Linked DNA regions of Homo sapiens. The protein of the gene in region 1 purifies or fractionates together with the protein of each later gene. This does not show direct contact. Each region holds a gene or a part of one and is shown in the gene's direction. Other genes may lie near its edges.

Region 1 (3,817 bases):
TTTTGAGATGGAGTCTCACTCGGTCACCAAGGCTGGAGTGCAGTGGTGCAGTCTCAGCTCATTGCAACCTCCACTTCCAGGCTCAAGTGGTTATTGTGCCTCAGCCTTCTGAGTAGCTGGGATTACAGGCACACACCACTATGCCCAGCTAATTTTTGTATTTTTAGTAGAGACAGGGTTTCACCATGTTGGCCCCTCAAACTCCAGACCTCAGGTGATCCGCCTGCCTCAGCTCACCAAAGTACTGGGATTGCAGGCATGAGTCACTGAGCCCGGCCTGCTTTGCTTTTTGTTTTTGTTTTTTCTTCTACATTTCATGTTGAACCTGCTCTGACTGTGGAACCAAACAAGAGATTGCAAAACTTGCCTTCAGAGGAACAAGTCCGTGTGAAGCCAAAGCATCCCTCTGCCCCACCCTTCATCCTCTCTGATGCAGGAATAGTTAATGGGGGTTGGCAGAAACCTGCATGACAGCCACTTCCTGGGTGATATTGGCAAGGTGCCCGTGCAGATGGCTTTAGTTTTCTCACCTCTCACATGAGAGAATTGCACTAGGGCCCCAGGGCACAGGGTATGGGTGAGGTTTTCTCCATCCATATTCCACTTGCTTTACCTTACTCAAAGTTGGAGAATGGTCAAACACAAAAGCTAAACGTTTGGGGAGACTTAGTTGGGACGCTGCCCTTTGCTTCTGCATTTGTTCTGACCCAGCTGCTATCACACAGCAGAGCTGTGCAAAGAAAGAGCCAAAACAGGACTGACCACTTCCTCTGTCAGCTCAGCTCTCATTTTGGCTGCAGAGAACAATGAAAGTGCCTATTAAAACCCAGCAAGAAGAGAGGACTCTATAATAAGGAAAACCTCAGAGTACCATGTTTGAACTTATGGCCTGCATTTCTGCAGAGAGGTTAAGCTGTTCTTCCCAACCACTGAAATCCTGATTTCTCATCTCTGCTTTCTAAATATAATGACACCAAACTAGTGCACCTTCCCTTGGTCTTTTTAAGATCCCATCCAGTGCAGCATACGTGATATGTAGCTTCTCACTAGAAATGCTTTCTCTTCCCTGAAGCACGTTCGCTAAAGGCATGGAGCGTGTTGTACTCTATAGCCAGGAACTTCCTTTATATGCAGAATTGGAAATTCGAAGGAAAACTTAGGACCTGAGGTTTGGAGCCCTCTGGCCCAATTAGCATGCAAAATTATTAAAAACCAACAAATGAGGCAACTGAGACATAGGCCAAGGTCCCAGAAAAATGTTCTCCCCTCTCACCCCTTTTGCACCCTTAATTGTAAGGCAGAATTTGGAAACAGCAATCCAACACCAGCATCAAACCAGGATGTGTCTGAGTTAGTCTCATGTCCCTTGGGATCCAAGTCTGGAGAATATTGGCTGTTGGCTAAAGTCGTGGAGGATTTTTTAGGCAGACTTTTCTGAACCAGTGGTTTGCCTGTGAACTCGGAAGTATTTTAGGTGTCAGGGTATATTTGTTCCCTGTTATTTCCAGCTTGCCTAATCCAGAGTGTGGCAGCCGTTGCAAACAGTAAGAACATAGATGCTGTGTTGCCTAAGGCCATGTTTATGGAGAGATAGTTCCCCAGGTAAGAGTCAAGAGAATTAGCCAGAGGAGGTCTTTAGGAGTGCCTTTAGATTCCATAGAAGACAGCTACCATTTGCCATGTAGTGGAGAAACCAATTTCATCTACAAGGGCTGCATGTTAGCATCTATTTCAAAGTATCCCCAAGAGTATTAACACCTGAGAAACTATAGGATCCTCGGAGGCCTGGAGTGGCCTGGAGGTGGTGGGGTGGGGGTGGGGGCTCCAAGAGTGAATTCTGACCTCTCACCAGCTGTAATTCCACACCTGGAGAGCTTTAAGGATCCGTAAACTCAGAGGAAGAATGCGTTAGGTTGGAATGCAGTATGCTTGTCATAGAACCAGGCATATCTTTTCTGAATACAAAAATCATAATAGACCGGGCACAGTAGCTCACACCTGGAATCCCAGCACTTTAGGAGTCCGAGGTGGGTGGATCACCTGAAGGTCAGAAGTTCAAGACCAGCCTGGCCAACATGGTGAAACCCCGTCTCTACTAAAAATACAAAAAATTAGCTGGGCGTGATGGTGGGTGCTTGTAATCCCAGCTACTTGGGAGGCTGATGCAGGAGAATCACTTGAACCCAGGAGGCAGAGTTTGCAGTGAGCCGAGATCCCACCATTACACTCCAGCCTGGGCAACAAGAGCAAAACTTCATCAAAAAAAAAAAAAAAAATCGTAATATGTGTAGATAATGCCCAGGTATCCCTGTGAAGTCCACATTTCAGGGGAGCTGTATTTCACCTGATGAGGTTTGTGTAGCTACAGGACTTTACTTCTGCTGGGCAAGGGCGTGGATAGGGAATGTTTGGGTATGCAGTGCTAGCCTCTAATGAGTGTGTGTATAATGCGGCGAGTACTGAGTTTGGTGCCCCAAACTCATAGCATCTAAGAAACAAAGAAAAATTAATCAGTGCATGTGCTAATTCTTGAAGTTAAGCTTCTCTGCTAATACCTAGTACCCCTTGTCAGATTTACCCAAGTAGTGATACGGTGTAGATCTGATCAAAGTCACTGACTAACAGCTCCTACAGGAAAGCAAGAGAAAACAGAGGGAAGGACAAAATCACTTCCTTCCAGCTGCCTGAATACACGAAGGGTTTTTTGTGCTGGGACCTACCATACAGTCTAAAGCAGAACCTCTTGGTTCTCTTTGGTCATCTAGGGAATTAGAAGTGTTACCGATTATGTTGCTAAAAGATCCCTGGTCTCCTCACAGATTGGAAAATGTACCAGTGGTAATTTGTGTGAACTAGACATAGAAGGAAGAACAATTGAACCGAGATAACAATCTGCCTAGAGCTATTTGATTTCAGGGGCAGCTTTGAGACAAAATGCATGTTCAGAGAGGTTGAAAATGGAGAGAGTAGCTGAAATTATAGACTATTAGTGCTGCAAGGGGCCTTCACAATGATGTCATCGGTCATTTTCTAAAGGAGGAAACTCAGGCAGGGCAGGCTGACAGCTGGTGAAGTGTTCACTCCACTGCTCACCCTCAAATTGGAGCAGAAGCAGAAAGGGGCATACTGGTGGCATCAGGATAGCCTTGTAGTAAAGACAAGGAAGACAAAATCAATAAACATGGAGAAATAAGCCTAAGGCTTAAAGAAGAGACTAACCAGGAAACTGATCTGTTATGAACCTCCCTAGCCGACTGGACTTGGGATGGGAAGGAATCCTGACCGTAGGCAGGTTGTCCTTGTCTCTGAGGGCACTGATGAAAGCATTGACCAGGGTTCTGATCACACCCCACTCCCATCTCCCAGCCTCAGCTTCTGTTGTGTTGATGATAAATTGAGAATCAGACGCCTCGCTGGTGACGGTTTCTGCTGCCCAGAATGCAGAAAGGTCAGGAAGTGGATGTGTGCTCACGGCTCCCAGTCCTCCTGCTCATCAGGCTGGGAGTTTGGTGACTGAGGCTTACAGTCCTTTGAGAGCCTCATAAGTAGGTGGTCTTACCCTCCTTTTTTTATCCAGGAGGTGGCAACTGATCCTCCTCCTGCTCTCAGCCTCTTCTGTTAGAGGGAGGAGGGAGAGGAAGTGAATCATCTGCCCTAGCCTCCGTCTGTCCCCATTGCTTTCCTGGGGAGCGTGGGATGGGGAGACCTGTGGACTGCAGGATTTCAGCACCTGCTGAGATCACTGCCATCTAGATCTTCCCTCTTCTGGCTCGCTATTTCTTCTGCGCCCTTCATTCTGACTATTGAGGGGGAAATT
Region 2 (3,817 bases), on another chromosome or scaffold:
TTAGTAGAGACGGGGTTTCACCATGTTAGCCAGAATGGTCTCGATCTCCTGACCTCATGATCCGCCCTCCTCGGCCTCCCAAAGTGCTGGGATTACAGGCGTGAGCCACCGCGCCCGGCCGTATCTTTGCTTCTTAATTTGCTTTTTGACTATTTTTCTACAAAATAGTTTTCTTGTAATATGTGCTCATTGTAGACTTGGAAAAGATAGAGAAATGCTAAGGAAAAAGGAAAAAATTCCTTCTAATATCACCTCCACAGAGGTTCATATTTTAGCCTTCTTGTGTGCCATATGTTTTCTGTGCTTTTTTAATTTACCAAGCTGAGATCATACCATATGTATTATTTTGTATCCTGCATTTTAAAGTCAATGTGGCAGTATAAGCATTTCCCAATCCAGAAATAGCTCTGCATAAATATGACTGCTGATGACAGTATAGTACTCCAGTATGTGGATGTACCATGATATTTGGACTTCACTATTTGTTCATTGATCATTTACATCCTGTGTTATGCTTGCACATAGGTCTTTGGGCAGATCGTAGCTAGTCATGCTCTTGAAAGGATTTCTAGCAGACTCTTTGGCATCAAAGAATACAAACATCTTTTTTTTTAAGCTTTGGTAAAACATGCATAACATGAACTTTGTCGTTTTAATCATGTTTAACTGCGGCAGTTAGGCGACATTAAGAACCTTCACGTTGTGCAGCCATCACCACCCTCCAGCTCCAGAACTCTTTCCATTTTGCAGAACTGAAACTCGGTGTCCCTTAAGCACTAACTCCCCATGTTCCCCTCCCCCCAGTCCCTGGCAACCACCATTCTACTTTCTGTCCCTGTGAAACGGACTACATCGGGTGCCTCATACAAGTGGAATCATACAGTATTTGTATTTTTTGTGATTTGTTTATTTCACTTAGAATACTGTACTCAAGGTTTCATCCATGTTGTAGCATGTGTCACGATTTCTCTCTTTTTAAGGCTGAATAATACCGTGTGTGTGGGGGTGTGTGTGTGTGTGTGTGTGTCTGTATGAATAGCACATTTTGTTTATCCATTCATCTGTTGATACACTTCAGTTACTTCTACCCTTCGGCTGTTGTGAATAATGCTGCTATGGACATGGGTGTATAAGTCCCTGCTTTCCATTTTTTTTTTGGTGAGCACAAGCTTTTTGGAACTCCTTAGTATATATGGTCAAATTGCAGTTGAGACATAGGGTGCTGGCTGGATTCTCACGGTGTCCACCCGCTGTCCTTAAACATGGCTAGGTTATCACCCCCAGGGTAAAAACCAGGCCTGCAGGAAAAGGAAGAGGGAGACTTCTTACCAAGCTATTTTGACAGATTGTGTAAACTCTGTGATTAATGGGATGAGAAAGCAGGAAGAATGTCTTTCATTTAAAAAAAAAAGAGCCTTCGGGGTTGCTTGGTTTTATTTTCAATTAAAAGGGTCTGATTTTGTTTCTGGAGAATGGTTTTAATTTGGATAAATGGTTCAGTCTGGGAACCACATGCCAGAGCCTATGATCTATGAGTGCAATTACTCAGGGTTTCCTCGGCTGCTTTTCTGAGGGAACGGTCCAGAACTGGGCTCGCTCTGGTTTGGCTCTGTTAAAACGTCGATGCAGGCCCTGGGCAGTTGGAGTGAGGCGGTTCTTGTGATCAGTCCTTGAAGTGCAGCCATAATGCCCTCCCCATAATGCCTTCCCCAACTGATGGTGGTTAATTTTTACCCTCTAAGAATGTGTTCACAATTCCAAATCAGGAATGTCAACAGCAGGCTGTCGTTTTCCCCTCCTTGGAACATGTTGAACCAGAATTACTGGCATCTTTTCCAACGTGGGCATTTGCAGAATTGGTGGGATTTGGGGGCTCAAGGAGGAGGCAGACTCATCCTAATGTTTCTCCTCTGGATTACTTGAGGTCCCTGGCCGGGCAGGCCTGCAGGCCCAGAGACGGGGTGGTGGGTTGCTCTATCTGGAGTCAACTGGTGTTTCTTTCCAAGAGGATGCTGGGCTGGGGGAGGTGAGGGACTAAATCCTGGGCGACTTTGCAGAAGGACCCGTCGCGATGGAGGGGCAGCGTGGGCAGAGGCCCTGGGCAGGGCCACCTGCTGTGTTCTGGAGTAGCAAAGGGGATTTGCAGAAGGCAAAGAAGAATACAAAGACACAAGGTAGGGTGTTTCACCCTTTCGGAGAACTGTGGCAAAGCCCTGGACAACTTTCCATGGCGCTTGTAGATTTGAGACCAATGCCCCAGCGACCTAGCGGGCTGGTGGGAGGCAGCGTGGAGGGCGGCAGGGTGTCCCCAGGGTGGGAGGTGGAGAGAGTCTGCACAGAAATTTCCAAGAGCACAGCCCATAAGGGAAGAATAGGCTTGCTCGTGAGGTGGGTGAAGGCATTGCCCTGCTGGCTTGTATCAGGGCGTTGGCTCCTGGGTCCTCAACAAAGGGCATATTAGCATAATGAATAGTTAAGTTACTTGGTTGGGCTTCAGTCCTTGGGGCCGTGGTCTCTTTCCGAGGGAAGGACTGGTGGGTGGGCCCCACCTCTGGAGATCCAGCCTGCATTGGGACCACGTGGTTTGAGAAATGTTTTCCCAAGCCTGGGCCACACGTGACCCTTGATTTCTGGGGCAGCCCTGGTGGCAACTCCCCACATATCCCTGTGAGGCCTTTCTCATTTTCCACTGGCAAGGATTCAGGTGTAACCAGATTATTCTGATGAAAAATTTGAGTGAGACAGGTAACCCGCAACACACAGAGTTGCTATGTTTTGCTCTTTTTTTTTTTTTTGAGACGGAGTCTCGTTCTGTCGCCCAGGCACGATCTCAGCTCACTGCAACCTCCCCATCCCGGGTTCAAATAATTCTTCTGCCTCAGCCTCCATAGCTGGGACTACAGACGTGTGCCACCACGCCCCGCTAATTTTTGTATTTTTAGTAGAGACAGTGTTTCACCATGTTGGCCAGGCTGGTCTCGAACTCCTGACCTCAGGCGATCTGCCCGCCTCGGCCTCCCAAAGTGCTGGGATTACAGGCCTTAGCCACTGCACCCGATCATGTGTTGCTCTTTAACTCCCCACCCCCACCTCCATTAAATAGGAATAATCCAAAACATAGGTCATCGAGAGCATACTGTGCTTTTAAGGCATTTTGCTTATTATTAGTAGAGATTTTGCGACAACTGGAATGGTGTTTATTCACTTTTTAAAGGCTCACTCTTCTCACAGGATAACAGAACACACGATCATTCATTTTCCTCTTCCCACGAAGGTGTTTGCAGCAGTGGGCGTGAGAAGCATAGTGTGTGTGTGACTACCGCGCGAATGGTTCTCCCAAACCTGGATCCCGACCTAGGCGTTGCCGTTGCCGGTCTCTGGGTGTCACCCTCCCATTTATGACTGTAGTGACTTCTCAGAACGCCCTGGAGGGATGGCCTTACTCCAAATGGTCCCTCGGCTGCCGGGCTATTTGTGAGTAAAAGATGTTTGTCAGTGCTGCTTCTTTTAGAACATGCCCATTCCACATCAGCTCAGCTTGTCGGGTGTCTGGTTGTCTGTGCGGAGCCCATGGGGAGGTCTCTGCAGCCTCACACCTAGCAGTGAGGTGGCCCCTCTGCGTGGTCATGCCCTGCGGAGTTGCATTCCTCTCCCTGATGGCTGGCTGCCAGGACCTGTGGGCCCTGGCGGTGAGAGGAGTGGGAGGTGCTGTGGCTCCTGCCAGGCTAGCTCTTCACAGACTGGGTTAGTTCTTCCAAAGCATAGTTCCCTGGGACACCACGCACGGGGCAAGCACAGCTGTGTGGCCAGCGGCATG

What was found.
Region 2: the proteins of PRAG1 (region 1) and TNS3 purify together in Homo sapiens (affinity purification with mass spectrometry, with the first as the bait; one large-scale study listed by BioGRID). This does not show direct contact.

The regions. Positions count from the first base shown.
Region 1 is NC_000008.11:8,330,623-8,334,439, reverse strand, and holds part of PRAG1 (inactive tyrosine-protein kinase PRAG1), read left to right. Parts: intron 1-3,817. UniProt on the Homo sapiens protein: Catalytically inactive protein kinase that acts as a scaffold protein. Functions as an effector of the small GTPase RND2, which stimulates RhoA activity and inhibits NGF-induced neurite outgrowth.
Region 2 is NC_000007.14:47,571,837-47,575,653, reverse strand, and holds part of TNS3 (tensin-3), read left to right. Parts: intron 1-3,817. UniProt on the Homo sapiens protein: May act as a protein phosphatase and/or a lipid phosphatase. Involved in the dissociation of the integrin-tensin-actin complex. EGF activates TNS4 and down-regulates TNS3 which results in capping the tail of ITGB1.